2 separate regions of the Homo sapiens genome follow, and region 1 is linked to region 2. Evidence: fine-mapped expression QTL. A gene starts in region 2. The other region holds a variant in brackets. All regions are shown on one strand. Distances are between the middles of the regions.

The links.
Region 1: its variant is fine-mapped to the expression of LINC02268 in prefrontal cortex (BrainSeq, PIP 0.93).

What each region holds. Positions count from the first base shown.
Region 1 is chr4:174,114,163-174,130,414 of GRCh38, forward strand. It overlaps LINC02268 (long intergenic non-protein coding RNA 2268), which reads right to left. Exons shown (of 5, transcript NR_125896.1): 2 at 5,735-5,924. Among named protein-coding and RNA genes, the nearest start is that of LINC02268, 98 kb to the right of the region's middle. The variant C/T (reference allele first, on the strand shown) is at 8,563.
Region 2 is chr4:174,214,120-174,230,371 of GRCh38, forward strand. It overlaps LINC02268 (long intergenic non-protein coding RNA 2268), which reads right to left and starts at 6,279. Exons shown (of 5, transcript NR_125896.1): 1 at 6,195-6,279. RefSeq lists enhancers at 187-246, 357-1,017.

The sequences.
Region 1 (16,252 bases), 100 kb before region 2:
TCATCCAGTAGGAACTACCTGGGCAGTTGAAACGATGTGACAGCTCCATTCTCTCTGTTGTGGACATCTCTACTTAGGTGGGATTAAAGCAGTAGAATGCATAGGAATATCTAAAAAAAAAAGTACAGTTTTATTCTGTTTCATCAAAGTGTCTGAAAATTGAGGAGTAGAAAGGAAGAGGGATAAATATACTTGGGGCAACACTGGCAGAAGCCAACATTTTAAAGCAATCATTGTTGATCTTTTGATTCTCCTCTTTTGGTTGTATTAGACATCTTTCCAAATCCTCCTTGTGTGAGTCTCGGAAAGATGCTAAGCAAACTTAAGCATTTCCTTCATGACTTGGCACACTTAAGGTGGTACCCTAGCCTCCCCAAAATTTGTCACTGCCATATTAGTCATTACGGTACTTGAAATTTTACCTCTGTTACATCCATTCAATTACATCTGAAGATACCCACTCTTGATTTATACTATAACCCAAGGCCCAACTCAAGCGACTTCTACACATAAATTGGACTTATACGCTTCTGCCCATCGGAACCCCCTTGTCCTGGCTAGTATCTGTATCACATTTATTTTAGGTGGTTTTATTTAATTTCTCTACTTACTATTAGCTTTAGTTTGTTCCTAGATTGTTTCATGATAAACTCCTGAGGACAAATAACATATATTACAATTTACAATTTTTTTTGTTTCACCAAGAGTAATATACAAACAAAAAGTAATAGAAAAGTTGAAAGACACCCAGCACTTTGGGAGGCCGAGGCAGGTGGATCGCTTGAGCTCAGGAGTTTGAGACCAGCCTGCTCAACATGGTGAAACCCCGTCTCTATCAAAAATACAAAAAATGTAGCCAGGTGTGGTGGCGCAGGCCTATGGTCCCAGCTACTTGGGAGGCTGAGATGGGAGGATTGCTTGAGCCTGAGAGGAGGATGCTGCAGTGAGCCAAGATTGTGCCACTGCACTCCAACCTGGATGACAGAGTGAGACCCTGTCTCAAAAAAAAAAAAAAGAAGTTGAAAAACAGAAGAAACACACCAGCCTCAATACCTCCTTTCTTATTGTGTATATTAATATCTTTTAAGGAAAGACTCCAACCTTAATGCCTGATTTCTAATGAATCTCATAGTGGGAATTACTATCTCAATAAGAAGAAAAGAAATAAAATTGGCAAACAGCAGAAGTCTTGAGATGAGCATTACTTCATGGTACTTCTTGAGATTTCTCCTATATTACCCAGTCTGCTTGGCATTGTCTAGAAAAGGAGAGAGCAAAAAATGAAAGCAAAAATGAATCTGAAATGTTAGATATTTGGAAATGAATGAGAGACTGGTTTGAAGAAATATAAGAGAACAAAGACATGCTTGCATTTTGAAAGCCGTTTTCCATAAATTCTTCAAGAGCTGAATATGCTAATTTAGCACACTGAACCGGTGATTTGATTTATCCTGTTCTGGATTTCTGTAATATAAAGAAATTATACTACAGTGAATGTCTAAAAATAGCAAAGTGCAACCAATCATGTTCCTTATTTATTGAAAACCACTAAGTGAACGTGACATGAGTGGTTCTATTCATGATATTGAAAGAATTCCTTTTTATACCTCACAGAACAGAAAAGCCTTTTATCCTTTTAATCAGAACAACACCTTTCCAGATTATCTAACAAGTCAGAAAACCCATTTCTTATAGTATGATATGGCATGTTTTAGGTTGCTGGTCAAAACCTCCTTTAATTAAATTGGTCATATATATGAACCCAAAGTATTTAGAATTAAGGTCTCTGTAGTAAGACTAACCCATTTAATTTTCTTATTTATGCTATTCATAACTGAAGGAAATTTAAAGAAACTGCTAAATACTGCCCATTAATTTTCTCCTTGCTCAATTTTGATGTAGAAATAATTTCGCTTTTATTTGTTTACCAAGAAGTACCATATTTAGGAACATTTAGCTAGACGTTTCAAAGCTATAAATAAAATTCTAACTTAATTCTGCAAACTGTTTCGTACCCCAATAACTAGAACCATAGAAAATAACTGGCTGGCTGCCAAAAAGTAAGGCGTGGGATAGAAAGCCTTTCTAGTATTCAAGTTTCTGAAATGAGAAATTTAAATGAATGCTCCTTATGATGTCAAGAAATCTCCATCCTGCTTAGTCCAACTCAAATATTTCCAGTTTTCAAGTTAGTATCTCTGTTTAAAATAAGCAAATGTGGATTGGTCTTCAGTGTTTGTCTGGATACTTTCTGGCAGTGGAGAAACGGGCATGCAAGGGTTCCCAGATTCACCCCACAGCCTCGCATTAGAGCAAAGGTGTTAATTTCCCTTGTAATTTTTCCTTCTCAATAACAGCATGCTCAAACCCAAATATTTCTCAGTATATTATTACAATTTTAAAAAATTGCTGGCTTATCCAATTCTGATCTGAAAAACCTTTCTCTAATTAGTGTCTTTGCAAAACTGAACTCAGGCAAATTTTAATCCCTCATTTACTGATTTTATTTTAATACTATTACTCAGCATATGTTGGCTGCATTAAACCATTACAGTAAAAATTAAAATGAAAGTCATATGATTTATTCCCCTTTAAAAGTGCTCAATTGGTCTAGTAAAAGTCAAGTGCCAAATACCAGATGTCGGATTTAAAAGAAATTCTGAACAAGAAGGAAAAAACCCTCCCATTACTCTCTTAAGATATTTAGTTGAAATTAATGCCATCCCAGAAAAAAATAATATTAACATATGAATACATTAGTCTGAATATATTTGATTTAAGAAAGAAGAGATGCAGGGAATAAAAATAAAAATATATTAATATTTATTGATTTAAACCCCGCTTTTGAAAACTACATTTGTATTGCTGTTACACACAATTTTCAAGCCAACTTGATATTTTACAAAGAAAATTAGAGTGGTTGTTTCAATTTAGAATGCAGAAGGTCAGAATAGGAAGACAAGAAATAGTATAGATACTTATATCAAGTTTTTATTACTTTTCCTCCAAACTTTTGTTTCTCCTCACTATTTATCAGCATAATTTTTAACCAAAATCCACTTCCTGGAAAAATAAACTGATGTGCTGAAGTTAATAGAAAGATATGTTCAAAAGAAATAGCCAAATAAAGATAACTACCTTTTCAGTTCTTATCATACTTTCAAGACAGCTATTTCATATTCAACACTCCTAAAACATAGTTATTCCCCAACTCCAGATCTTTGCCTACATTACTTTTTTCTTTCAAAAATTGCTGTTCTCTTTCCAACAGTTAAGACCTACACCTCAAAGATGGTCTAACTATAGCATTTCTTCCATAATTTTTTAAAAATTATTCCTCCCCCACCCACTCTGCCATAACTACAATGCTGCTATAGTGGTCACTGGCTAGCAATTCCCAAAACACTACTGCCTTTCTCCCTGGATGCGGCAAGATTACAGTCCCCGGCTTTCTTTTTTAGTAAGGTATGGCCATGTGAAAGTAGACTGACCAATGGGCTGTCCGCAGAAGTAGTTATACCCTCTGTATGGGTATTTCCTTTCACTGTGCTGGCTGCATTTGATTGGCAGTATGATCGTGGCGGAAGTCCGTGCTGGAGGTGGTAGTTCTGGGGTTCCTGATGGCTCCATGCGGTAGATCCTGCCCTCCTGTTCACCCCAAACCCCAAACCCAGCCCTCCGTCCTATTGAACTTTACATAGCATAAAATATTATACTGTGTTTATCCACTGAGATTTCTCAGTTCCTCAGCAGCTGACAATATCTTAACTAATGTAAGTAAAATTATGATCTCTCAGTTGACAGAATATACATAATATTTTGTGTTTTTCTTGTCACTGCCTATATTCTCCTTATTTGTTAATGATACCTCTTCTGACAAGTTCCTTAAAGTCAGGAACTCCTCTTTTTTTTCAGCTTTTATTCCTTACAGCCTCTGGTAATAAGTAGATGCCTAATGAATTGCTCTTTATCTGTCAATCTGAGTTTATTATGCTACCCAAAACTAACAGTCTCTTGGTTCATTCATTTATTATTTTATTCATTTATTTATCCAAAATATCTGTTGCATCTTTGCCATTTGTCAGTGCATTAGACACCTTTGGGATATCTTCCCAGCTCACATTAACTCCCCATTCGTAAGGGGTGACCTTCGACAATAGTCTCAGTGCCTAAGCTTGTGGCTGACTTGACCAGAGTACATTATCTCACTCAAGCTGGGCCAGTTAGATCCGGTCCCCAGGCAAGTTGCTAGGAAATAGCTAGTTCATCCTAGCTCATGACTGAAATTGTACTCTACCTACTTGAAAGCATTGGCAGCTATGTAATGCCACATTGACCTAAGAAGCCCAAAAAAGTATAGAGCAAAGAGGAAAAATAAAATAAGCACCCCCAAAACGTAAAACCCTGAAGCCTCTCCATGGCCTGTCTGCAATTATTTCCTTAGACCAGCCTGAATTCTACCACTGTGCTCTATAGCTTAACTATACATTACCTGTTTTGTATAAGCTATGTCAGGATGGCTCCTGTTACTTGCAACTAATAAAATTTTAATTAATAAAACAAGACATTTTGCTTTTCCCAGGGATACAATGATGAACAAGAGATATATAGCTCTTACTCTTATAGTAAAACCAGTAGGTGGCAATTCAGTAACTTTGCAAGGGAAAAAAATGAACTTATTTTTCAACCCTCTCAGATGCTGATTTTCCTTCCTTTTGAAGAAAAAGATTTGGGGGTGATTTTCATTTGTGCTACACATGAAACAAGAGTTTTATTATTCATGATAATATCACTTTCTCCTCTCCTAATGTTTTTTCTCTTGTTATTTTGCGATTCCAAAGTGTAACAAAAATTGTAAATTTAAACATCGGAAAAAGAAGTCAAATACATCTGTGTTGAAAAGAGAAAGGTGGGAAACTTTGAATTGGGGTGATGGTAATGGCGATGTGACAAAGTGGAAAGATATAAAACATTAGTGAGATGAAAGACGCGGAACTTAGGAACTAACTACACACAAGAACAACAGAGGGGAGAACCAAGATGGCTGTGTTTCAAGCATGAGTCACTAGGAAAATGGCGCAAGACCAGGATGCTGGTTAAAGGGAAAAAAATGACACATGGCATATTGCTGCATTTCAGAAAGTCTCCATTCTCAGGGTACATCAAGATATTTTGGAGATCTTTGAAAAGATACAATTGCCCCTCCTTCAGCCCCAGAGATGATGAATCCATTGGTCAGGAGTGATTCTGTGTATTAGTGTTTTTAAAAACCCATGTTGATGGGATTGAGAACAAAATTCATTTGAAGTGTCTGGCTCTTCCACAAAAGTATTTGCTTGTTTACTTTCTAAAAGATGTTTCTTAGTAGACTCTGGGGACTTCAAAAGTGTGGAGGGAGGAAGAGGGCAAGGGTTGCAAAACTTCCTTTGGGTACTATGTTCACTATTTGGGTGATGGGTTCAATGTCAGAAACCTGCATGTGTAGCCCCTGAATCTAAAATTTTAAAAGAAAAATAAATCAATTTAAAACTAAAAATTTTTTTTTATTTAAAATAGTAAAACACTGTACAGAAAACTTGAAAACCATGCCACTTAGTAATATGGAGTTGAAAATTAAGGCAGAAGATAAGAGGAGGAATGAAAAAATGAAAACAAAGCAAAATACCTATTAAGTAATACAGAGGATGGAAAGGAAAGGGTATATTCTGTAAGTCCTGCAGTTTCTTTTCCTTACCTCAGATACTGAAGCTTCTAACAGAAAATCCAGAAGACTCTGGGAAGTAGGTGAGGTTTGACTTCAATTCCTCTTCTTGCTGAATTCCCAATCTTTCCGTGCCTCTCACACCACACTCAGTAATTGCCTGTTGCTTTTACTTACACAGACACTCCTAATCACTGACTTCAGCTTTTCTCTTCATTGCTTTCTGGGATGGAAAAGAAGGAATAGTTAGCTAGGGAATTATCCAAAGCATCGTTAATAATTACCTACAAAACAATTCGCTTCTATAGCTACTGAATGAATGAATAAGTTGCTACATAAGAATCAACTACAATTCTTTCCTTTTTCTCCTCTTCAAAAGGAAAAAAGAGAAGAGGCATTATCTACTATTTATTAAACTGAACTTAAACAAGAGATGAAACCTAACGCAGCTTCTCCTCCCTTACAGAATAGGTAAAACAGATATGAATCAGTGAAGCAGAAACCATGTAATAGAAAAAGTGGAATATAATGAATTTGGATTTGATGATGTTTTACAAGCAGATATCGCAAGTCAAATTTCACAGCAGTAAAAACAACAGAAGTCCACAAAGGATAGATGAAAACATGTCTCTCTCCTGTCTCTCTCCAATCTCTGTGTGTGTGTGAGAGAGTGTGTGCGCGGGCGTGTGCGTGTGTGTGCGCGTGTGTGTGTGCGCGTGCGTGCGTGTGTGTGCGTGCGTGCGTGTGTGTGTGTGGTGTAGGGAGAGGGATAGATTCCTTTTCAAAAAGTGTCCAGAGGGGGAAAAAAAATGCATCATGCCACCTAGTGGCGGAAATTAAGTTGATTCCTTTTAACTCGACAAAGCGACTTTGCCTTTCTTTAGAAAATCAGATGAATTCATTAACATAGTGGAATCTTGATTTGGCAAACTACACAGTAGTTAAAATGTAAATACCAGGTCTATGTTTTAATTTTTCATCCACCAATGGCATTAAGAAATATGATGAACTTTAAAGAGCCCTGAAGTCAGAAGCAGGATATCTTTCCTTCTCTTTCGACCAGGTCACTTAACCACCCTGGAGCTCAGTTTCCTCCATAAAGGGCCAGAATAGATGAACTCTTAGCTCTTCAATTCCATGTTTCAAAGTATGCAATAGACCACATAATCAGGGTACTCTTATCTAATGCAGTTCCTTGTGACAAAGTCAGGCCACCATCTTCACTGATTAAACGCCGGATGACACAACATGCCTTCTACACTTTCAGCCTCATTCCAGTCACATTTTACAGAGTCCGTGCTTCATTGCAAGCCTTTCTTTATTACTGCTTTGCATTATTGGATGTCTGCTGCTGAGAGTCCCTAGATTACAATTCTTAACTTCTGTGAACTGCAGTGGTGCATATTTGTGATGTATTTTTCTAACTTACGTGAATGTCCACAAATTCCCCTTTGAAATCAAGTAAAGTATTCCTCCAAGAGAAAAAGAAATAGTTTGGAATTATGTAGCAATATTTTTCAGACATTGTGAAGTATAATTGCCCCTTTCTCCCACTCTCACTAATAATATACATCCATAATGATATACATCTGTGAATCAGATTTAGAAAGGGCATTAAAAGCAACAATTAATCTGGGCTATCCAGAATACATAATCTCCTACTAACTAATCTGTCCTTGTAACTTAGCGACTAAAGTGTGAACATTTTGTTTTAATTCAAAAAGAAATAAAATTTTCTTAAAATATAAGATTTTCTTTTTTATTTATTTTATTTTATGTATTTATTTATTTACTTTTTGAGATGGAGTCTCACACTGTTGCCTAGGCTGGAGTGCAATGGTGCAGTCTTGGCTCACTTCCACCTCTGCCTCCTGGCTTCAAGTGATTCCCCTGCCTCAGCCTCCCGAGTGGCTGGAATTACAGGTGCCCACCACCACGCCCGGCTAATTTTTTGTATTTTTAGTGGAGACTGGGTTTCACCATGTTGGCCAGGCTGGTCTCGAACTCCTGACCTCGTGATCCACCCACCTCGGCCTCCAAAAGTGCTGGGATTACAGGTGTAAGCCACCGTGCCCAGCCATAATATTTTCATTATTCCAAATGTGATGGAAAACCCATAACACTTAGCTGATGCAAATTGTTTAAAAAGTATCAGATACATAGATGAAAAGTCTTTTTAGTCAGATATTTGACTTTCTCTGCAGCAAAGCCTTGCCCCTCACCCTCAGCCCCAGCCAGCTGAGGGAAGAGTAATTAGCTCTCCAAAGAGAATAAGTGGTTAATGCAAGAACATGTTTATTTGCTCTAAGAAGACTGTCTTAAGGTTATATTCTCTACCCAGATTGCATCTTCACTGTTGACAACACAGTGTGTCACAGATGAAATTATGCTTGGGGTAAAATTAGTATTTCCTTCTCCAAACTGGAGATTAGAAAATAAATGGGTCAAGCATAGGAATGGGATAGTACACACATTAGCATTCTATGAACACACAGAGGGACTGGCAATTAGATTCATGGTAAATATTGCTGACATTCCCCTGATGCAAACTCACAAATATAAGAGAGAGAATTTTCTAGAACATGCTTATCAATGTATTTGTTTCTTTGTTCAACTCCCTTCTTAACATTGTCCAGACATCCTTTAAGCCTCCAACCTCCCCCAAAGACATGCATACAAACATATCCAAACACTTCATTTTTTCACGCAGTACCTTATAACACCTCTATTTAAGCCTTTAAATGATATGTTTACTTGTCTTTCTATCTCACTAGACTGTTAATTACAGCAGGCAGGGACCTTTTCTTTGTTAAACTTAGGACTTACTACTATGACTAGCATATAGTAGGCACTTTAACACC[C/T]TTGATTGAACTGAATGTACTGTGTTAATTTAAACAGTGCATTATTAATACTGGGACCAGATGAGTCTATCTTCCTCCTATGTCTCATTGCTAAGGAGCTGTGGATTCTCAATAGTAGAGTGTCACAAAGGGAGCAGCCTCTACTTCATTTGGAACTATTACAAAACATTGCTTTCCTCATGCTTTTTTTAGAGTATGGACAACAAAATTCTTTTCATACTGTTATGAAACACTTCTGATAGCTGGGCAACAGCTAGGAAGTCTCTTCAGTGAGGCCAGAGGCAAGAATCAGAGGATGTTATTCCCTTCATTTCCAGCGTATTATGTGGCAGGACAAAATTTTAAATTTCCTTCAAACACTTCATTCCTTCCCTTCTTCACCCATAGTAAGGAAGAACTTTTAGCATAATGACACACTGAAGTTAAACAATTAGACATGGTAAAATTTAGAGAAAGATGTTTGTTTCATTGTCATTGATATTTTTACTGTTCGAATAGTTCACTCTGGAAAAATCTCCAAAGACAACCTGAGCTTGTTCCTAGGATGAATTTATCTATTCCTATAAATGGAGCCAAGAATAAAAGTCTCAGAGCCTTTGACCTTAGCATGTTACTAAACAGAAGCCAGGACCTTGGAGCAAGGGATGGAGTAGGCAGATGGGTAGAAAAAAACAGGAGAATGGCCCCTTGACTTCTGTTTGAAGTGAACTCTCTGAACTAAAAGGTGCTGTGATGGAAAAACACTTGGCAGCACTTTCCAGATTCTATGCATCTTTATAATAAGCAAACATTAAGATTATTTTTCAGTAAAATCATCTTTCTGATAATGGTCTATATCCACATATCCTTCCAGATGTTGGAGGAAATAATGAAGTGATTACAGTCACTGGATTTCTAGACAAAGCTGAATGAACAGCAATCTTGGGGGGTGGTGTTTATTAAGGCATCAGCAAGTTTAATATGGAAGGAAGGGAGCCATTTCACACTTTTCTATCCAACTAGTAGCTAGCTTGTCTGACATTAGGTTGCTTGTGGATGCATTGCTTTGTCAAATATTTTTAGAACTTTAAAGGAAAGAGCACTTGTTGATTCCTCAATTGGATTGTCCACAGCTTGAAGACAAGCCGAAGACATGGTGATATTTATTGTTTCCTTCTATCTCCTCTGCAATCTTAACCTTCCACTGTCATCCACAGATAGTATTTCTCCCCAAAACAAATTGTACATGTGGATAAACTCTTGAGTTTGTTGTGCACAGAATGATGCTAATACTGGAAGGAGTTTAAAGAGTGCAGCAGGGTGGTAGAAAATATAACTGTCATGATGAAATGTGGAGGTAATTAAGGCAAGTGTAAAGAATTACAATTTTGTGCCTGATGATTTTTAAATAATAATAATAGTCACTATTTACCGAGCATTGATCAGGTGCAAATTACCATGCTAGATCATTTTCATATGTCACCTAATTTCATTCTCACAAACACCCTGTAATATTGAATATTACTAGCCTGGACTGGAGGGACTGACTTGCCCAAGGTCACTCTGTATGTAAGTGGCAGAGCTGGTACTCAAACCTGGATCTGTCAGACCCCAAGTTCCTGATTTCAGCTTCTACAAAGAAAAACATTTTCTGTGCTTCACCAGGAGTGTGTTTTGGTTGTTTGTTTGTTAGTATGTGTATCTATTTATGTGAGAGGGATTGTAGTTTTACTCAAGATAACTTAAGAAATGTGACAATAGAGATAGATACGATATTCCAGACAATGTAAAGAATGTCATGGTAAGGTCCCAACAAAATATTTTTAAATCAAGGGTATATTTCGCCATATTTTTTACTATAGGACCAAGATTCATTTTATCTGGGGATCCAAATATTCATGGCTCTATTTGTATGTCTCACAAACCTGGAGCTTGATGAGTCCAAAACAAAGCACTAATTTTCTACATCCCATCCATGTCCCCTTCCTCCCCCGCTTATTCTTAATCTTGGTTGGGGGAACAAAAATGAAGCCTCCAAGACAGAAGCTTGAGAATGTTATTTAACTCCTGACTACGATGGACTCCTCACCAATCTCACTTTTCTGCCTCCTATTTCTCCATCCCCTTCTTCTCAGCTCCTTTTTAGGAGTTTCCTTCTGCATGCATCTCTTCCTTGCTAGTGTTCCTGCACTCAGCTTTCTTCTCACTTGTCTCTCTCTTCTCTCCTTATGTAAGTCCACTGATGCTTAATGCTTTGCATACCATCTTAACATGCTAATAAATCCTAAATCTGTGTCTCCATCCTAGAATTTTCTCTTTCTCTATCTTCAACAGATACCCAAAAATTAAGATCTCTAAAGCAAAATTTTGTTATTTCCCTCCTCAGAATCTGCACTTCCTCCAATATTTAAATGGCATTACCATTCATAAAATTGAACAAGCCAGAAACATAGTGGCATATTTATCTCTCCTCTTTACTCTTCCCATCCCTGCCTAAACACCAAACCCTTCACAAGTCCTGCTTACCCATCTCCTAAACATTTCCTGAGTCTTTCCACTTAATACCATCCCCTTTGCCACAGTTTCCTAGTTCAACGCCCCCATCCCCAAAATTCTTTCACACATGTTATTGCCCAGCACCTTAGATGGTCCTCTTGCCTCCAGGCTTGAAAGGAATAGATCCTTTCAATCTATTCTCTATTTGGGGTAGAGTTGCTGGAGCATGCAGAGAGTATACTAAGGAAGAGAACAGGCAGGTAACTGACTCTACTATCTCATTCTAATACACTATATCTTACAGTTAGAAGAAACATTAAAAGCCATTTAAGCCAACCATTGCATTTTAGATAATGAAATCAAGGCCGATGATATGCATAACATCTCTTTTCTAAGTCAGTACTACTCCTTTACAATTTACGCTCTTACATTCTGTTGAGTTTCACATGTTCCAGTCAAATGAATCATGCCCTTTTCTGACCAGATATTAAAATGAATCCTTCATAGTCAGAAACGTTTTGAAGGTAAATAAACTGAGTAGAAAACTGGGAGCATAAGCCCCTCTGACAATAGATCAGAGGGTACTTACTTCTCCCACTGTATTTTTTCACATACAGTCAATTCCGAAGCCAGTGGACGTAGTTGATTGCACTTAGAGGGATCCTCACTTTTTTGCCTTGTGCATTTTGCTGTGTTACATGTGACTATATGAATATAAATTTAAATTAATGAAATGAAATGAAAAATTTAGTTCCTCATTCACTCAAGCCATATTTCAAGTGCTTAGTAGCCACATGTGGCTCATGGCTACTGTACTGGGCAGCAAAGATGAAGAACATTTTCATCACCGCACACAGCTACATTGGGCAACACTCATCTAGTGCTCTGTAAAACTGACCACAATACCTCCTGGCCTAGATTCAGGTAGGAAAAAAAACAGCCTTGAATGGAGTAATTAAGAGAAGGAATAGAAACTTTGGAAACCTTAGCCATACAATACCCTTTTTAAGAAATGCTACTCCTCCAAATCATGACATCATGAAAAATTGTTTTCTGAATGAAACAAAGTATAAGCATCTATGGTTGGTATGGTTGAAGATAATCAACAATTTTCATTGAGAGAAAATCAAGATCCCAAACATGAAAAAATAGACACCTTTCCCTTTCAGTGCCTGTTAAGAATCCAATGATCAAAAGTAATTGCTCATTAATTTTACAATCAGAGGTAGTGAGAAGGGTCAAAAAGTCACCAGGGCCTGATAGAACCGTAAAAATGAGTTTTGCAGAGACATGCCAAGAAATATTTGAAATCACTGAAAAGAATGGAGCTTCACTGAGCTGCCGAGTCCTCCAAATAATGAAAAACAGCACAATAGGCCATCAATTTCAACAGCACCTAAATGAGTCACATATTATGGCTGATATATATCAGATGTATTTTTCTTTTATTTTTATATAATGTCATCTTTTAATAAAATGTTTTATTTTAAACTTTCATTTAATTAAATAAATTCAAGTAAGCTTTATTAAGAAAAAGATGGCATCAAACCATGTATTCATAACTTTTGGGCTAGTAAATAAATATGGTGTCCATATGTGAGTTGAACTATGAAATTGCCACAATTTAACTATTTTTGCCTTACAAAAACAGCAATTTCATATGATTCAACTACCTGATTTAGAAAAGCTATTTTTAATCTTTGAATAAATAAAATGGAGTGTATGTTAGACCTGAAGAACAAATATCATTTTGCCCCAGTATTTTAAATGGAAAAGAACCTTTAAATTCTCCATTTTAACCTTTAGTCTTTATGATTCTCTGAAATGATATAAAAGAATGTTACAAAGGCAGCACTATCTACCCCCTAAATCTGCTATTGCTTGTCAAATTTCAATTAGTGAAGGGAAAAGCATGCATTATAGCTGTAATATGTTGCCTTGAAGTTTAATTTTCATAGTTCTGTTTTTCCAGTTTGCAGTACTGATGGTTCACCTTCCTTAGAAAAATAGGTATAAGGCAAGTAGCCTCAAGCAGTGTGTAACAAGCTACTTTATATCATGCTCATTTAAAATCCATGCTTCCTCACCACTTTTTAAGTTGATCAGCAAGGAGACATCAGGGATGTTGGCTTTGGGTCTGTGGGGGACTGACGTAGATTAGTATATGGAGTCACTGCACCCCTGAGCCCAGTTTGTGACCTGAAATATGGTCGTGAATTTAAGCTGATCACCAGGAGTTGTAACCTTTTGGATTCATGCCTCACAGAAAGCATTAGCCCTTCACCTGAACTTGCAACTAAGGAAATAACCTTATTGGAAGACCCATGGCAATTGGGGCTGTTCTGGTTCCATCAGGAGCCGAGAGATCAGAGAGCCAGCACAGTCCACTCTCACCCCCAGCCTCTACAGTTCCATTCCCAAACCTCAGAGAACACGCTGCCCTGCTGGCAGCACCCCTTCCACTTTCCTGTAACCCACACCTCCTGCTGGAGACACTCAGCTGCTGCTGATCTCTGAGGAGCCCCACAACTGCGGAGGTGATCCTTTCTACCAAGAAAGGTGTCTCAGTGCCTAGGGCCACTGGCCTGCCCCCATCAAAATCTGTACTGTCAGCCAAGAGGAAATTGAAAAAGCTTTACACCACAGGGCCCTAGCCTCATAACCTAGCATGCCTTTCATGGAACATCAGGTTAAGAAATGAGCATCTCACCTTCTGAAGATGAGTTTCTACAGGGAGCGGCAGAATGCTGGCAATGTGGGGAGTTGGGAGCCACACCCGGCTCTCATGATTTAGACACACCTCCACTAAGCTGCCCTTTACCCTCCACTGCCATTGACAATCAGAGTTACGATGGAACTCGGCAGCTAACAGGGAAGGCTTGGAAACTGGGATGGGATTTGAGTGGATTTATGAACTTTCTGTTACTTAGAAAGTGGGGATCTTGCGTATCTGAATTAGGAGGACTGTTTGGAGTAAATGAATTATACTTTTAGAGTGCAAGGTGAGGCTCCAGTTACACAGGCCTTTGTGCTTAATTTGGTTTCACGTTCTACTTCTTATAGATTTATCAAACAATGATTATCTAAAATGAATATCTAGACTAGCAGCTTTGGTCAAAAGAAGGGATTCGTATAGAACATCTGACATGATTGTAGACATAGAAGCTCACCATTTTTTTTTAGGAAAAATTGAACATCAGATCTTGTAGGAAATTTTCTTAACAAAGCTTAGAACTGTCAAATGTAACAATATCCAAAAGTATTTTAAATTGGTTATTTTATCTGCCCGAACTATTTAATTTTAATCAAAATCTTAACAAAGTTTTGAAGCTGAAATAATGATCACAAATTGTTTGGGATCATGTGTGGATCATGGGGAACATACTGTTTCTTGTTTCTTCTTTTATTTTTTTTTTTTTTTTTGGAGATGGAGTCTCACTCTGTCGCCCAGGCTGGAGAGCCAGTGGTGCCATCTCGGCTCACCACAAACTCCGCCTCCTGGGTTCAAGTGATTTTCCTGCCTCAGCCCCTGGAGTATCTGGAACTATAGGCGTGTGCCGTCACGCCCAGCTAATTTTTATATTTTTAGTAGAGATGGGGTTTCACCATGCTGGCCAGGCTGGTTTCGAACTCCTGACCTCGTGATCCGCCTGCCTCGGCCTCCCAAAGCGCTGGGATTACAGCCGTGAGCCACTGCGCCCAGCCCACTGTTTCTTCTTTAACCAAGTTCTATGGTAGTCATATACAATGCTTTGTATTTTACATTCACACCATCTGTATTAAAGGAAAATATTCAGATAATAAGCATTAATTAAGAAAAACTGCTTCCAATGGCCAAAATTGGGACAACATGGGCATCAAAAAAGTAAATGAAATCAATTAATACACATTGAATACATATACATTTTAAAAGTTTATGTTTCTGTAATACTGCAAATAAATGAAAAACCAAACAACTCAAAACAACCTGTAGGCAGCATAGGAAATAACTAGAGCACCAAATCTTCATTGTTAAAATATGAAAATCAAGATTTAAGCTGACTTAAATGTATAAATTACCTTTGCACCGTTCTTGTATGAATTGTATTTCCAGCCATTTTTCAGACAGGTAAATTTGATTATGGACTGCATATTAAAAGATATGATATTACTCTTCTTTTTATTTGGTTAGATTGTGCTTATACCCATATGCATTAGTATGGAGGGGTAAAGTGATATAATTACTGAGTTCTTTTTAAACGTCAACTAAAAAAAATAGATAAAACAAATGTAGCAAAATCTTAACTGCATAATCTGGAAAAGGTATTAAATGTGATTCATTGTTCTACTCTCTCTACTTTTGTCTTCAGTTGAAAATATTTCAAAACAAAAATTTTGTAAAAGAAACATTTGCTTTTTAAAGTTTCAGTTAACACCAGTGTATTTGGGTCTAAAATATACCGTGCCAGGTAGATACCACTTCCTAAATGCTCTCAAATCTGCCCACTTCTCTCCATTCCCACTAATGTCCTTGGACTTTTATCTCTTGCTTCAGCAAATGAAATACCCTCCTTTTAATTGTCCTTCCTTACTCAAAGCCCATCATCCATGTGGTGTGCCTTTGGCCCTAGCCAGGCACCAACCAAAGGTGCTGAAGCAGCAATCGGGAAACAGTCCTATAAGACAGGTCACACAATTAAGAGAGGAAAGACCAGATAAATGAGAAAATATGCAGAATTCAAGAGGTTCTAATGATGTAGGGCTTTTGGGGTTCACTAGATGCCAAGTCTAGGGGAGTATGGGCCATTTTCATGTATCATGGCCTCTTTTCTGATGTATACTCTTCTCATTCACCAAATATTAGGTGCTCATAGGAGTCTACCATCAACCTCTGGTTCTCATCATGGGTTTTGAGGGATGTGAGCGAGATCTTCATTCTGTGCAGCTGGAGAGTATAGTGTCTCTGCAAGGATGGATCAACCACAGCCATCCCATCATGGGCTAGCAGTGCCATGAGCCACCACCTCGAATGGCCATTTGAATGGTTTGTCCTTGCTTTCATGTGATTCTCAGTCTAGGAATATTTTCTTAATTAATAAGTGTATTTTTCTAATTTTCCTTCAAATAAAATATAAGGTTTCAAAAAGTGTGAATTTGGGGGCAATTTCTGAAGCAGAGAGTAGGATAATGTTTAGAAGTTAAGGTGGCATGGAAAGTTGCTTTCTTCCAGGTAGGG
Region 2 (16,252 bases):
GGAGGAACGCCCTTGCCAACCTCAGCCTTTTTGATCTTCCGCGGGCAGAGACTCATCAGAGCCAGGAGGACTGTAACTACCCCCGGGGCGTGTACCGCCGAAGCCTGAAGAGGCTGGTTGGGCCAAAATAGCAGTCGCTGCAGGCACCAGTTTCAGCCCGTCACCTGAGTGCCGGTTCCTGTGGGCGCGCCAGTCTCGCAGGCAGCGCGCCCAAGCTCGCGGATCGCCCTCTCACATTTTTAGAAGCCAAGAAAAGCACTTTTGAAATTCACTCCTTCGACCGTGGGCAGAGGAGCAGGTGGGCGCCGAGCCCTAGCTGAGGGTGGGGGGTCGCGGAGGAGAGGAACTGGAAAATGGGAAATAGGTGTCTGCTGACCTAGAGTTCTTCGGCTTTGATTTTAAGCGGCAGTGAGGCTGGGTGGTTTCGCCCCCCTCATCCCCTCGGTCGCTGGCGCAGATTGATCCTGGAGCTAGTTACGGGTGTTAAACTGGTACGCGGGTGGGGCAATTCATTAGGCAAGAAATGGATTAGTTGTTTATTATCTATAAACATTCCAACCACAGCAACCAATCATAAAACCGCGGAAGGGCCTGTAAAGTAAAGCAGCAGCGAAGCCTCCATGTGGGCAGCTCAGGCTTAGCGATTGTTCCCGGGTGATAAAGGGTCGATTAGGGAAGTAGAGCTAGGAAGGTGGGGGCGGGGGAGCGGGCGATAATTAAGCGAGTCGTCAGGAAATTGCTTTCTAGATGGGGATCATGATGCCTCTAACTTGAACGGGGCAGGAGAAATATTGGGGTGATTTGGAAGACGGTGATAAGGGAAAGCACAAAATAAGGATTGGAGGGCCGCAGTGAGGTCATTAGTGAAGCTGATGCCGGAGATAAAAGCTGTTGATTAATTGAGGGGAGCAATTTAGTCTTTGGTTTCTTGGTAAAATGCTTAGTCACTAACCATGAAAGCGGCCTAATAATATTTTATGGGGGTGGGGAGGAGTTTAAAACTGGCATCTTTCTAGTAGCAGAAATTCACCTTTGAGTATGGCTTTTTAAAATTCCTCTTTGGAATAAAACGTTTTCTAATAAGAGTTAGTCTCAAAAAAAAGTTAATATTAGGTTGGTGCAAAAGTAATTGCGGTTTCTGCCATTACTTTCAAATGACACAAACCGCATTTACTTTTGCACCAACTTAATACTTTTTCTTTTTTAAGTATAAAGCTTTTGTTTTTAACAAAATAACTATTTGGTTTCTTTGGGGTTTCGTAAAACAAACTTTAAACTCATTGCATATTTGACATTTTACTATATTAGAAAGTGATGAAATAATTATGCTGGTTTTCGAATAACTAATTCAAGTATACTGTTTTCACTTTGATTCAGAACCTATTACTCAGAAAACAAGTTAGTGGCAAAGTTCTTAATCGTTTAATAAATATATTGGTTTGGAAATTTATTAGAACTAAGATGTAGAATATAGTAATATACACACGTTAGAGGTTTCCTTTCTCAAATTAAAAAAAAAATGGTAATTTAAGTGTAACCGTCCAAAAACGGGCATGAGGCATAAATGAAAAGTTTGATAAATTATTTTTTAAAACCTTCTTATGGAATTTCTTAGATCAAGATAAAGAGCGTTACCTGCATCCCAGAAATTCCTCTCCTGCAAGATGTTTTTTAAAATCAATTTATTAGATTTTTGTTTTGGGGATGTTTATGTTTAAATAATTGCTCATCAAGTGCTTGGATTTCTTTTCAGGACGAGTATTGTAGATTTTCCTCCCTTGGGGACTACTTGCCTAAAAATAAAATGATTCGAGCATTTTGAAGAAGGAACAAAAACAGCCTCCACATCCTTTTTTTTTTTTTTTTTTTTCCTGCCTCTGGCAGCCCACACTCCTTCCCCCAGCTTTCTTTATTCCATATGAGAGACATAACAAACAAACGATTACATGTTGAAAAACACATCTGAAAACAGAAAGGTCACGTTACTACCGAGTCCTGGGGAACATTAATCTGATGTTTGGAAAACAGTTGACAGTTGAAGGTTGGAGTTTCTCTTTTCAACTCCTGGACAGAGAGAGAGAAAGAGAGACAGAGAGAGAGAGAGAGTTGAATGAAAAAAAGAAGGGAAGAGACCACTTTGTGGCCTTTTCACTTCAGGAATAATTGAGGGACTGCCAAATTTCTAACCCAGATTTAAAAATGCAAACACATTCACAAAGAGGACTAACGATTTGAAATGGCTCAAGTTGGCATTGACTCTAAGTGAGAAGGTGTGTGTGTGTGTGTGTGTGTGTGTGTTGTCTTAAAATAATTAATGTGAATAGCGAAAAGTAATCACGATAACATCAAGCCCTGCATGCCTGAGGGGAGAGTTTGCTGGACAAAAAACAGTCCCTTTACTAATAGCTTGTGAGAAGGTGAAAGTTGATTGCCTGACCACTCGTCTCTCTCCAGCGTTTCTCTAAGTCCGAGCCCCCATCTCTCCCAGTCCTCCCGGCTCAGCGAGGAATTCCTTTTCTTGACTTGTTTAAGTGCTGGTAACCCAGGGCTCAGTGGCTGAAGCAGCTGGGTGTCTAAAACCCCGATATCTGGCTGCCACTGGGGTTCCTCCTATGTGAATTGTGAGGTAGAATGAGGAAGAAGATCTGAAGTACATTCCTGGGACTTTGGAAATTATCATATTGAAAATTGTACTAGTAAATTGCAAAGACAACAAATAATGAGTCCTTCTCTACAGGCATTCTCAGATCCTGGTATCTCTACAACACAGTGGATATTTGAGGCAGGACGATGGATGGGGCCAGGTGTGAGAGCGAGAATCAAGAAACCTAGGATCAAGGAGTTTTACCAGAGCTTTGTGTGACCTCGTGCAATGTCACTTTAACCTGGATAGCGTCAGGTTTCCTCACGCATAAAATAAGATCAGATGATGCCCTCTTGGATTCTTTGACTGCAGGACAATCATTAGGCCATAGTGAACAGATGCGCTTGGTTGCCAGACCGCGCCCTTTGCGGGTCTATCAAAAGGGCAAGCGCATATTCTGGAGCTGTCTCGGAGACTTGGACAGAAAGATTCGAGGCAAATATTCTAGGCTGGGAAATTTCGCGCCGAGCCCCCCCCTCAGTTAGCCTGTCTAAAGGCTGGTGTGGCCAGAGCGAGGCAGAGAGCTCTGCACCTACTGTCGGGGCTGACAATGATTTATGCGCTTGTGACCCACGTAGACCATAAACCTAGTTTGCTAGACGTACAGGGAACTGCGCCGCAGTTAATGCAGAGGACTTATCCTCTGACCTGCAATGTCTCCCCACCTGGTGCTCTACAGCTCCAGAGAGCAGGGATTTCAGCTTTTCCTCCCTCATTGGATCCAATTTCAATCCCCTCGGTTAACTGAAAGTGTGTTGACTTCCACCCAGCCGGCAGGACCCTAAGGGCGCCTGGAGCAGTCTGGTGCGGGTCCTGGCTGCAGCATGCCCAGCAGAGCTCCGGGTGCAGGAGGCTGCAAAGCCACCGCCGCGTCCAGGCCCCTTGAGCGGAGGTGGGAACGATCCGCCTTAGAGTTCAAGGTGAATTGCTGTGACAGTGGCGGGTGGAGGAGGGGAGTTCGAGCCGTTCGCCTCGGGGAAGAATTATCCCCGATCATTTATTTTTAGATCTGAATTCCTCCAGAACCCAGCAGAGGCTGTGGCCAGAGCCCCAGGGCCAGGCAAGCGGCCAAGCTGCGCTCTCGATAAAGGAGCCAGAATGGTTCCATCTGGTTACAAACATATCTTTTTATTAAAAAGCAATCAGATCCTGAAGCGCTTCCCTTGCGGTTTACCGCTCTCCGCAGGCTGCTTCTCCGAAGCCAGCGGTGGTAGCGCCCACTCGGTTGAGCCCACGCCTCCGCCAGGCAGCGCCTCCGCCAGGCAGACCTCCTGCGGGACATTTTGTGGCCAGGGGGGTTCCTGCCCAGGGACCTCTAATAGGGTCGGTGGAAGCTAATTTGAATCTTCCCAGTTCCTTCCCTGTTTATTTCTCAACCCAGCAGTTCAAAAATTCACTTTATAACGGTCCCCTAACAAAAACACGAGTAAGAAAGATAGCAAAGAATTAAGCTGGACAGGCACCCATGTTGCGAAAAAGGTTTTGCTTGGAGACTGCAGGAGAGGGCTATCCCTCTTTACAATTCACGACGTTACTACCAACTTTGCCATTGAGTGGTTCCTCTCCCTGCCCGAATTCCTGGCCATCTTCGTTCCAGAGAGCGATGCAATCATGGCCTTGAAACCGAACGGGGCGTAACGTGCCATTCCTCTCCAGCTCCCGAGCCCCACTCCCACCCTTGCCGTTGAAACTGTGAAAAAGCCGCCAAAGTTTGGGCACCCAGCCTGGCAGTCGGAAGACAGTGAGATAAAGAATGCGATAGTAAGTCCTTAAGTGCTTCCTAGAGATAAGGTCCCGGAATCCTGGAAAAATTCAGTCTGGCCTCCCTACTTCAGCAAGTCGCCTCCTGCTTCTGTCAGCCCCCTCCCCACACACACCTGGAGGGAGAGGCGGTGGCCACAGGGGTAGCTGGGGCAGACCCTCCGCTCCTCCACTCCCGGTGGCCAGGGGTCCTAAGGCCACGCGGCTGGCTTTCTTCTCTGGGAATCAGGAGATGATAATGAGAAAATCCCTCAACCATTGGCGCGACGAAACTCAAAAATGGACAGCCCTCCCTTATTCATAAATATTACTTCAAATATGTTAAAGACGTTAAGTAATTTTTAGTCTCTTTAGAATTTCCAACGCTATAGTTTATTATGACAGATAAGGTTTGATTTGTGCTAGTCGCGTGCCAGGACACTGAAGGTGAAAAGAAGGAAAACAAGAAAGAGTTTCTAAAAGAATACACGTAACATTTAAGATAACTACATACAAAGTGCTCACTTAATTTCTCTTAAAACAGTTACAATGAATAAATTACATTTCCAACTTAATAAAATTTAATTCTCTTAGTCGTTTGTACAATTGATGGCCTTTGGTTATAAAATTTTACTTTTTGGAGAAATATTGCCCCTCTGTCAAATTATAGCACATGACAAATAATATAGCAAATAATAGGTTTGACTTTTAAACATACACAGTTATTTGAAACAAAATGTTTTTAACTTTCTGGCAGCATAGGCAAAACAGTAAAAGCACAGTTATATTTTAGGAATTATCTTAATACATTCCCCTCTATGATATCAGAACTTACTCCTGATTGAACCAAGGAAGAACAGCTAACTCTTCGGATAAAACAATTTTTTCTCCTTCATTCCCAGGCATGGTTTGGAAAGCAATAAATGCATATTTGCAAGAAGTCATGAAAAATCAAGATTAAAAATACTGTATAATCTTCCTGGTAAAACATATATACATTTTATATCTGACCATATGAAACTGTCATCTATAAGTATTACATTTTAATGAAGCATAACTCCTCATGATATATTTATTTCATAACAAATGGCAAAGGTAATATTACTTATCTTCAAGTATTTTTTCTTTTAAAAGCTCCTCCCACCAAATGAGAGACCTCTATTTAAACAGCAACTTCTATTGAAATATATGATCTGAAGGAATTCGCTATTTGAAAGTCTTTTGACAGCTTTACAGATTATATCTGTTGAGTTTTTTCTCTCTCTCTTATTTCCACAATTTACATGTGTGAATATATGGGTAACCCTCACTAACTTTTCAACATCAGTCACGCACATTAGGTAGAAAAAATTAATTTTGAAACTATTCTTTGTTTTTAAAATGATATATGTCATTACTGTTAGGTGAGTAAGCTAAGTGTGTTTTTTTGGAAGGGGAAGGTAGGTTAATCACAATGATAGAGCAAATATAAATAGTATTATGTTGTTGGTGTTAAAAGGCAAAACCTCTTAGTCTGTGAAGATCACCTACTTACCTTCTCTCCATTAAAAAAAGAGTTGAACTTTTTGGCTCCCTGTATAATGTGTGTTCTCCATAGATTTTATACTAAATATTAATATTAAGATTATAGAGCTAACCTTTTTCTAATGTCAAAGAGCTTTTGAACAATACAGGCACAAGAGAGAAAAGACACCTACCTCATACATTCACATCCCAAATTTCCTATCTCCAATGCAACAGGAATAATCTTTTTATTCCATTAAAATGGTCACTAACCTTATAATAATAAAGGCATGTTTTAATCTCTTACCTGAAGGAGTCTTATCAATGTAACAAGAACTGAAATTGTGACTGGTCCTTGTTGTCGTTTACAGTACAGAGATCTGTACTGTATTGCCTTTGTGGAGGGCTGAAGTAACAACATATGACTACTGCCTCCTGAGACCCTTATGAAAATAAGATATATAGCTGGTTCAAATAAATGTTTTAGGCCTTGACCCAGGAATATAATTGAGAAAAACAAATTATTTCACATACACTAAAACATAATTAAAATGTTATTCTAAGCTTTGCTTTTGTGTGTTATGTTGTATGTGCATACTAATGTTATCCTCAATCATAAAGCTATGTAAGAAATGATTGTACTTTTAAAAATGTTACGTAAACATCTTTTTTCCTAAAAGTGGCAAAAATTACCTTAGAAAGCAGTTACAGTGCAACTTTCACTTTTAAAGGTTTTCAAGATTGAATATTTTAATTCATAACATATTTCTCATTGTTAAAATTCTTTGGCTTCCTCATATCTGGCATTTAAAATTTTTCAGTTGTTTTGTAGACTATGTATGTAAGGTTGCATTTTTCACTGTCAACATAAAGTTATTGTTTGCTTTGGATTTAATATGTATTTGGATATGTATGCATATTTGTTTAAAACTATGAACTCTGGGGAGGGTTTTAATTCTATGCAACATAAGTCAGTTTTATATAATGAATATATACAACTTCAGCTAATAAAAAGTAAGATTTTAATCTTGACAATATATTCCTAAAATGCATTAAGATATTGTCAATCTAAAATGAGCTTGATTTGAGAACAAAAAGAATAAGTTCTTTTAATGAACTAGTGGTATATTGTTATATGTATATATGTTTTGCTGATTTTAGCAAGAAAATGGAAAATAATCCATAAGAAAATGGAAAATAATCCTCCTGCAAAAGAAACCTGAAGTGGATTACCTAATAAATTGTTTTCAGCCTGAATTTTAAGGTATCACGACATAGTCATGTTTGTTTTTTAAAATATCATTTTCAAAAATCAAAGACATTAATGGTATTCTCTATTTCAAAACTATGATCATTATTCTGCTTTTTGCCACCAATATTTATGCTAGGAGAAACATGTTTAAGAGTCATCAACACCTTGGGCTCATTGACCATACGAATGAGTCACATGGTCAAAATGAATAAAATGTTATTTAGAAAAAGGAAAAATATATATATATATTTATACATATGCATAGGTATTCTTTTTAAATGAATAAAAGGGCTTCATAATTTGGGACAGCAGAAAAAGGGAGTAGCAAGCATCACAGCCCAAAGCAAGAATGAAAGTAGCAATGGTGTCTAGACAAAGGAGCAAGGATATTTGCTTTTACAGTTAGTTTTATTTGGGATATCTTGGAAGAAAGAAGGGTAGGCTCTCAATGGCTAAATTAAATTATCTGGATGATTTGTCTACACAGAGCAATAATGACATCTCTTTTTGTTGTTGTTTGCTTTTGTTTTGTTTTTTGTTTGTTTGTTTGGAGACAGAGTCTCACTCTGTTGACCAGACTGGAGTTGCCCGGGCTGGAGTGCAGTGGCATGATCTCGGCTCACTGCAGCCTCCACTTCACGGATTCAAGAGATTCTCCTGCCTCAGCCTTCTGAGTAGCTGGGATTAAAGGTGCCCACCACCACACCAGCTAATTTTGGTGTTTCTAGTAGAGACAGGGGTTTCACCATTTTGGCCAGGCTGGTCTTGAACTCCTGACTTCAAGTGATCCGCCTGCCTTGGCCTCCCAAAATGCAGAGATTAGAGGCCTGAGCCACCGCGCCCGGCTCCTCTTCCTGATGTGCTATGTAGATACATCTCTAACAGGAAACTATAGATCCCCCAGCATTTGCTTTTGAAATAATTCAAAACTTTCATTTCAGTTAGGAAACACATTTTGCCAACATCATATTGTCTATCTTTTCCATTACATTCCCCATAACAATAGTTTTTAAATGAAGTATGCCTCAACTTAATGTTTATTATTAATGTAACAACTATTTGTTGACTGTTTACTACAATTCTCGGAGCACCAATGACTAAAACAAACAAAATAACCTTCCCTTGGTAGAGTTGGGGAACTTTTCCGCAGAGCATGGAAATTAAGGGGAAAAATCCTGTAGGTTTCAGGTTATCCACTAGGTGGCAAGGTGTGCAAAAGTGACTGCCTATTGCAGAGCAAAATTTGGTACAAAGAATGTGGCTTTCTATGAAAATTTCCACCATATTTTGTTTGTAATGATATTTGTAAAGTCTCTTTTTGAGCTCTACAGTTAATAGCTAACGGTCAGGATTCACTCTGTGTTCAGTTTTACAAAGCATTCTTTGCTTGGGGCTCATCTCTTCAAGAAGAGAGCCAGCTGTGTTCCCTAGTGGCCCATCTACAAGATCCCCCAGCTTACCTTAAGAGATTTTTCTCTTTTCCTCCCTATATTTCTCTGTGCCCCCAGATGTGTGGATTATGAAATCTGCCTAAGGGTCTGAACATCTGGCTTTGCAGAAGGACCACAAAGCGTTGGTTCAATTTTATTCAAATTTACCTAGATCAATTTAGATATCACACTTTGATTTGCTGATGTGGGGGGTTAGTGTCCAAAACACTAACATCTTACAATAACATCCATGCTGATAAGTAGTCAAACACATATGCCCATATGTACATACATGCAATTATGAATATATTTTATTTTCAGAGACTACTTAAGTGAGATCTCACATTTATAGCAAAGAAATAAAATTATTTCATTTAATCAGACCTCTTCTTTGGAAAAGAATTGTGATATTTTTCTCAGTGAAATTGGGCCTTTATGCATGTATTTTGTTTTCAGAGACCATTTAAGTGAGATCTCACATTTATAGCAAAGAAACACAATTACTTCATTTAATCACACCTTTTCTTTGGTAAAGAATTGTGTTCTTTCTCTCAATGAAATTGGATCTTTATGCATCTTTAGATCTCCCAAAGAGATTAAAGAAAAAAAATCTTTCCGTCTTTGAAAAATGGTTTATACAGGATGTAGAACACTTGTAGGGTTGTTTAAATATAGAGTTTGAGATTTTTCTGTGCTTGTCTAACATATGAAATCTGTATCTTTGTTTTCAGATGAGTAGCCTCTAATCCAAAAGTGAGATATTAGCTAGGCATGGTGGCACTCACCAGTAGTCCCAGCTACTTGAGAGGCCAAGGTAGGAGGACTGCTTGAGCCCTGGAGGTCAAGAGCAGCCTGGGAAGCATAGCAAGACCCCACTCTCTAAAAATACATAAATAAAGTGAGATTTTAGAGATAAATATTTTTCTTTGTGAAAATGTTCTCCCCAACAAGACTGTGTGTCTAAGGACATAATTATTAGTAAAACATTAACATTTTAATGTTTATAGCTGAAATTTTTCTCCTTAGATATTCACTTTGGCTGTGATAATTCTCAACACATTCAAAATGTGTGCCTCATAGCAGAGTTTATACATTTGGCCATGAGTTTTGATAACAGCTGTGAATAAGCAAAGGATATATTATTTTATACATAAATTGGAAATATGGGTTGTTTCTGATAGATGTGGTTGTTTTCCATTTATCAGAGTTGTAGGGAAGCTATTTTTCGAAGTTAGGGAAAAACTTTTAAGTCAGGCTCAATTCCTCTCAATACACAATCAAGCACCAATTTATATCTGTTCTGCTTAGCTCAGGGCCTTCCACATAGTTCAATTAACAAATTTACTGATTGATAACTACAATTTGTTTCATGGAGAAGTCATTCATACAAAATGTATTTATAGATCATAATGTAATCAAGCCAAGGTATTACTAGTAAAAAAAAAATCCATTCTTAATACAATTTTAAATGTAAAGGGATTTTACCTTCAGTTAGTTTAAACAAAGGAATAAATCTCACCCACCCTCCCCCCAACCCTCACTGCAATAATTCTGCTTTGGGTTTCAGGACCTAGAAATAGAGCTTTTAGTGTTTTTATTTTTAATTCCCATTACAAAATATGTCAACTTTTTAATGACTTTATTATGATGAAATTCTATTCTGGATTACTATCATTTTAGGCTTTTCTCATAGACTTACTGTCTTTTACGAGAATTTTACTTTTTAGTTCACAATAGTATGACAAGCAGAGCAGAACTCAATAAAATTTTTTAAAACCACAAATTTCTCAATAACTCCTCAATACATCAAAGTTTTCATGTAACCATATTTTCTACTCAAAATTTTCAATATACATTTTCTTCATAATTATAATTATTGTAAACATTTTATTTAGGGTTTTTACTTCATATGTTATTATAAACAGTTATCTTATCCTTAACTAGTTTTTATATTTATCTAGATTAATGGCTAAACTCCCTTGCATTTCTTTCTAAGCATTATCCTTCCCAGTGTTCCTCATTTCAGTAAAGGGCACTAGCAGCTGTCCGGTTTTTAAAGCCAAAAATCCAGGAGTTCTCAGGCCCTCCCTTCTCCTCCCCTCCCCTCCCCTCCCCTCCCCTCCCCTCCCCTCCCCTCCCCTCCCTTCCCCTCTCCTCCCCTCCCCTCTCCTCCCCTCTCCTCCCCTCTCCTCCCCTCTCCTCCCCTCCCCTCCCCTCTCCTCTTTTCTCCCCTCCCCTCCTCTCCCCTCCTCTCTCCTCTTTTCTCCCCTCCCCTCCCCTCTTCTCCCCTCCCCTCCCCTCCCGTCTCCTCCCCTCTTTTCTCTCTCTCTCTCTCTCTCTCTCTCGCGATATATATATATATATTTATTTTTGAGACACAGTCTTCCTTTGTCGCCCAGGCTGGGGTGCAGTAGTGTGATCTCAGCTCACTGCACCCTCAATCTCCCGGGCTCAAGCAATCCTCCCGCCTCAACCTCCCGACTAGCTGGGACCACAGGTGTGCACTACCACAACCAGCTCATTTTTATATTTTTATTTTTTGTAGAGATGGGGGTCTCACTATGTTGCCCAGCCTGGTCTTGAACTCCTGGGCTCAAGCAATTCTCCCACCTCGGCCTCCCAAAGGCCTGGGATTACAGGCATGAGCCATGGCACCATCTCAGTTCTCTGTATCTCCACTGCCGCCACCCAGTTCTAAGCCTTCATGACCTTCCATCTGAACAGCCTCAGATGCCTGCTAACTGGACTCCGGGCTTTCACTCTTGCTCCAGCCTATTACCCGCTCTTCACGCAGCAGTCAGGAATGATTGTTTTAAAAACATACATCACATCACATGACTCCTCTTTTAAAATCTTTCTGTAATGTTTTATTGCCCTTGAAATAGAATTCAGATTCTTTGCTACTACCTACCAGGCCCTGCCAGATACGGCTTCTGCCTTTTTTTTTTTTTTTCCAAACCCATCTCCCTCTGTGAGTTCCTTCCTTCCTCACATATTTCCTGACCTTTATCATGTTTTAGTGGCTTTTTTAGGTGCTGGGAATGGAGAAGTGAATATAACAGTGTCTTCTTTCATGGCGCTTACATTTTATGGTGCATGGACCAATGTTGTTTCTGCCTCCCGGGCTCAGCCTTTACTGCTCCTCTGCTTTGGAAAGCACTTATCCTCTCAGGGCTGCAAAGACAGAGCGAGATTAATCAGTAGATCCAGGACTCGCTAGCCTGTGACCTCTATAAATGGTCATGTTTATCTCCTCAGAGCATACTTCTGCAGGCTAAATAAATTAAATAATACAAAGCCCTTAGCACAATAAATGTAAGATAAATATGATCTATAATTTGGATTTTTATTATCAGTTTTGCAAAGAAATATTTCTACAACTTTTTCAGAGATTTCTGAGACTTGCTTCCTTATGGCATTGACCAAACTGCAAAATGAGCTCCCCTGCAGGAATTTTGAGCTACAAAATACATTCCCAAGAAGCTGGAAAAGTATTTCCTCCCAGAGCCAGGGCTCTGCTGTGCAGCATAATACAAATATCCCAAGCTTAACGCCATGGTTTTTATCATGGATGCTGATTAGAACATAATTTAGTGATGTTTTTGATTGGAAACAAATTTTGACCCCATGGTGCGTTACATTCAAAATGTCTCCATTGCAAAGTGTTTAAACTTTTATTATTGCATTTATCACATTGTATTATAGTCGTGGGTAGGGTAACCACACATCCTAAGTTTATGCCTTTTGTCCTGAAGTACCATCTGGTTTAGCATTTTAGCACTCTCAAAAGTGTCCTGGTTTAGACAATAAACTCTATAGTCCCCCAATTATGAGGCAGGTGCCTGGCTGCAGAGGCTGAGGAGCACTGGGGTGGTCCTAAGCTAAGTGTGGGTCTGTTTGAGAAATTGGTGATGCTGGTGACCCAGAGATGTCTGCTTGTTTTGCATGCAGAGAAGGGCATAGAGGAGAAACTTAGGCACCGAGGGCCAAGGGCAGAATCAGTGGAGGAGAGTAAGGAGGGTCTCCAAGACTACACCTAAACTCTAGAAGAAGAGGGCTCCTCTTCTCATTTCTGCTAAGAACACAACACATTCTAAGGCAGTGAGGATGGAAGAGAACAGCTTCGTTTTGGTTCTTTTGAGGCTTGTAGTTGTATTATAAGACAGCAAGGAATCAAGGGCAATGAGACAAAACTTAGAAGATGCCTTGCAATCCTAAACCTCAGTGAAGTGTGAAAACAACTAAACCTGGGTTTCTGAGGACTAGAAGAAACATTTGGGGTTGGCTGAGGATTGGGTTTGCATGCATCTTAATCACCAGAGTAAGATATAATTTGGTTTGGTTTCATGCTAAAGTTTTAGTTTTCGGTACTTCGAATTAAAGGGTCAGATACAGTCTGTCAGCTAAAAAAGAATATTTGTTAAGTAGAATACTTCATGTCCTGGCAGGAGGAAACCTTTCTGAACAGAGTGCACCTTGGTTATTTAGTTTAAAATTTTTATTCTGGAAGATTGTTTAAATTGAGACAGGATGGTAACTTTTTATATACAAGGAATGTTATTAAAGTACTTTGAGATTTTTGGATGCTTGATTTGAGAGCACTTGTCAAAATCAATTTGTTCATACAACACGTATTTAGATCCTACAGCTTGCCATGCACTGTGCTAAGTGCTCATGACAATATCACAATGCATATCAACTCCTCTAGTTTCTTCTGCTATGTCTATGCTGAGGACTCTCCCAGAACAGTATCTTAGCCTTTATCTCCCATCTTAACACTATACAACTAACAGCTGAATACCTTCACATAATTGTCTTATGAATACTTCAAATTGACCACAGTGAACTCATTCTCACCTGCTTACATCCTCCCCATCATCACTACCTTCCTCCCAACCCAAGAAGACGTGTCCTTCACTGACATTCCCTCCATCTAGAATAGAACTCCTTCTTCAGAGTATTTGGAGTAGTTTTTAACTTCTTCATCTTCACGTCCAACAGCCAGTAGTACACCAAAATGGTTTACTTCAAAAGTTTATCTCAAATCTTGCTTCTATCACTTCTACTCCCAATGACAGTACTAAAGTTCAGATTTCCATTGTATTTCACTTGCGTAATTATAGTAGCCTCTTCACTAATTTCCTTAGACTACAGTCTATTGCATTTCTACTTCATGTATTAGAGAGATCTTTCTGAAACACAGATCAGAAATGATACTTTTCTTCTTGAAAAATATCCAATTGCCTACACAATAAAGTACTGACTCTCTATTTTAGCTTACTGTCTGTTCAAACTATATTTTCCAGGCTTTTCTTCCACATCACTCCCACTTTACCCTCCAACTCTAGCAGATTATTCACTATTTCATGACCCTTATATGCTTTTGGTTCCATGCCTTTGATCATGTTATTAACTCAGTCGGTAATATACCTACTGAAATAGCATTCATTCTTTCACACTAAGCCAGTTGGTATTAATTGCTTACTCTACTCTTTCTAAAATACTAGTACTTTTTTAAAAAGATCTTTTAACATCGTTTCTTCTGCTATTCATTAAGGTTAGTAATAAACAAAAGGCACATGGGAGTCAGTGTTTGTCTTGGTCCCTATAAATGGTCATGTGATCCTCCAAAAGTCACGTAACTCCTCCAGACCTCTGAAAAATTGTGGTGATACTATATATGAAGTATTACAGAACTGTATGTGATGTATTATGGTTGCCTTCCTCCCACTGAAGTCCTTAATAATGAGGGGTAGTTTTCTTCATTTTTGTCTCTTTCACAACACCTAGTAAGTTCCTTTCTTGCACAACATAAGCCATCTTTAAATGCTTATTTAAATATTAAAAATTAAAATGTCACTGTAATATAAAATAATGCTCTAAATTTATCGTTGTATCATAGGTACTTAGGGGTTATGGTAAATTTGAACTTGAATATGTGAGAAATGATATTTCCCTTAAACAGTGAGAAAAGCACAAAGTACATCAGAATGATGTTGGAACAGCAGGTCTTGCCTGTAACGTGATTGGCTACATTAAGACTTTAATAAATTGATGTAATAATAAGTGGAAGTATTAGAAACATTCTGAGTCAAAGAAAGGGGAAACTGATGAAAGAAAGGGCAAAACACCATGCTACTTAGTATAAAATTAAAAGCAATATGGGAGCAATTCTTGGCAGTTTCTAGTAGAAAGTGATTTCAGCTATCAAATTTTAAATGTGCAAAATGATCTCTATTGAGGAGTGCATTTGGCTATTTAAGTCTGATGCAAAACACAAAGCATTTGATTCAGGTAACTCCCCTTGATCGGACTCCATGCCCATCAATCAATTTACTGTAGGCTGGTAAACAGAGAGAGAGAAGGTGCTGATCACATTTAGTAGGTTATCACTGTAACATTTCCTTTAGTTCTGGATTTAAAATCATGTCATGAAAAATACACGTGCTTGAGGGGTGCTGACAAAACCAGATTTCTGAGGCTAAGAACCAGACCCAGAACCAATACAAATCCATCATGGTAATAAATGCCACTCTGGGAGAGCTGTTACAAGGCATTGAATTTCACCTAATCCAATATAAGCTTGGTTTCATTCAAGTTTTTCATTTCTCTGGCTTATTATTGACAATGGTCATAATCTTTTTTGGATGGCATCCAGGAAAATACTATATATTATAGTACCAAGATTAATTAAAGGAAGGAGAGAAATACATATTTTTAGAATTTATGCTGTAAGAACAAAAAACTCCAAAGGGAAAGAAAATGAATAACTATGAACTCCTTTGCAAACACAATTGCCTAAATTAGACTTTGCAATCAGTTTTTAGGGAAAAATATGTATTTCTCTCCTTCCCTTAATTTCACAAACATTGAGAAAATAAAATATATAATTGTTGAGAATTATAGAGATACAATAAACTATTCAATGGCTGCAAGACTGAAAATGACATGGGCTTTGGAAGAAACTCACTGGAGGGCAATGTGATGGGTGTCACTGTGCTAGTATATACACGGAGCTACTTTACTTAGCTCCTTTTATTGTCCTCTCTAAAAGGGCAGCAGCTTTGATAAACTTTTCTGGGCCACCCCACTTTTCTCAGACTGCCTACCACAGGAGCACAGGCAGATATTCACTGGAACTCTGGCCCTGGCAAAAGGTAATTTCCCTTTGGGAACATATATTCATGCAGCTCAGAGGAGACAACTACCCTCAACTTGTTCAAGATGAGGGCACTCTTTGTTCATTTTTTGTTTAGATAAAAATTGGCAAATACACATTAAGTTTCTGTAAAAGGAGCTACTGGATGTCTTGTTATATCAAGACATTTTCTATGAGGATTTTTTTGGAAGAATTTTCTCTGGCTTGAATTCTTTTGGACAGGTTTTGAAATAAAATGATAAACACTGGTATTGGTAATTGCTACAAATACAAATAACAATTTGTACAATTGTTATTGTAATTTGGTATTGGTATTGTTTTTGGAATTAGCAATTGACATTTGGTGTTTAATTGGTATTAACATTTACTTAACTTTCAGTTAAACACAAATGTCAAATACAACAATTTGTACAATACTAAATACAATATCAGTATTGAAGCAAAAATATATATTCCATTTGCCACCTAGTAACTAGGTATATTCAGCAATTTGAGTTTAGCTAATGTCATCATTTTTAAACAAT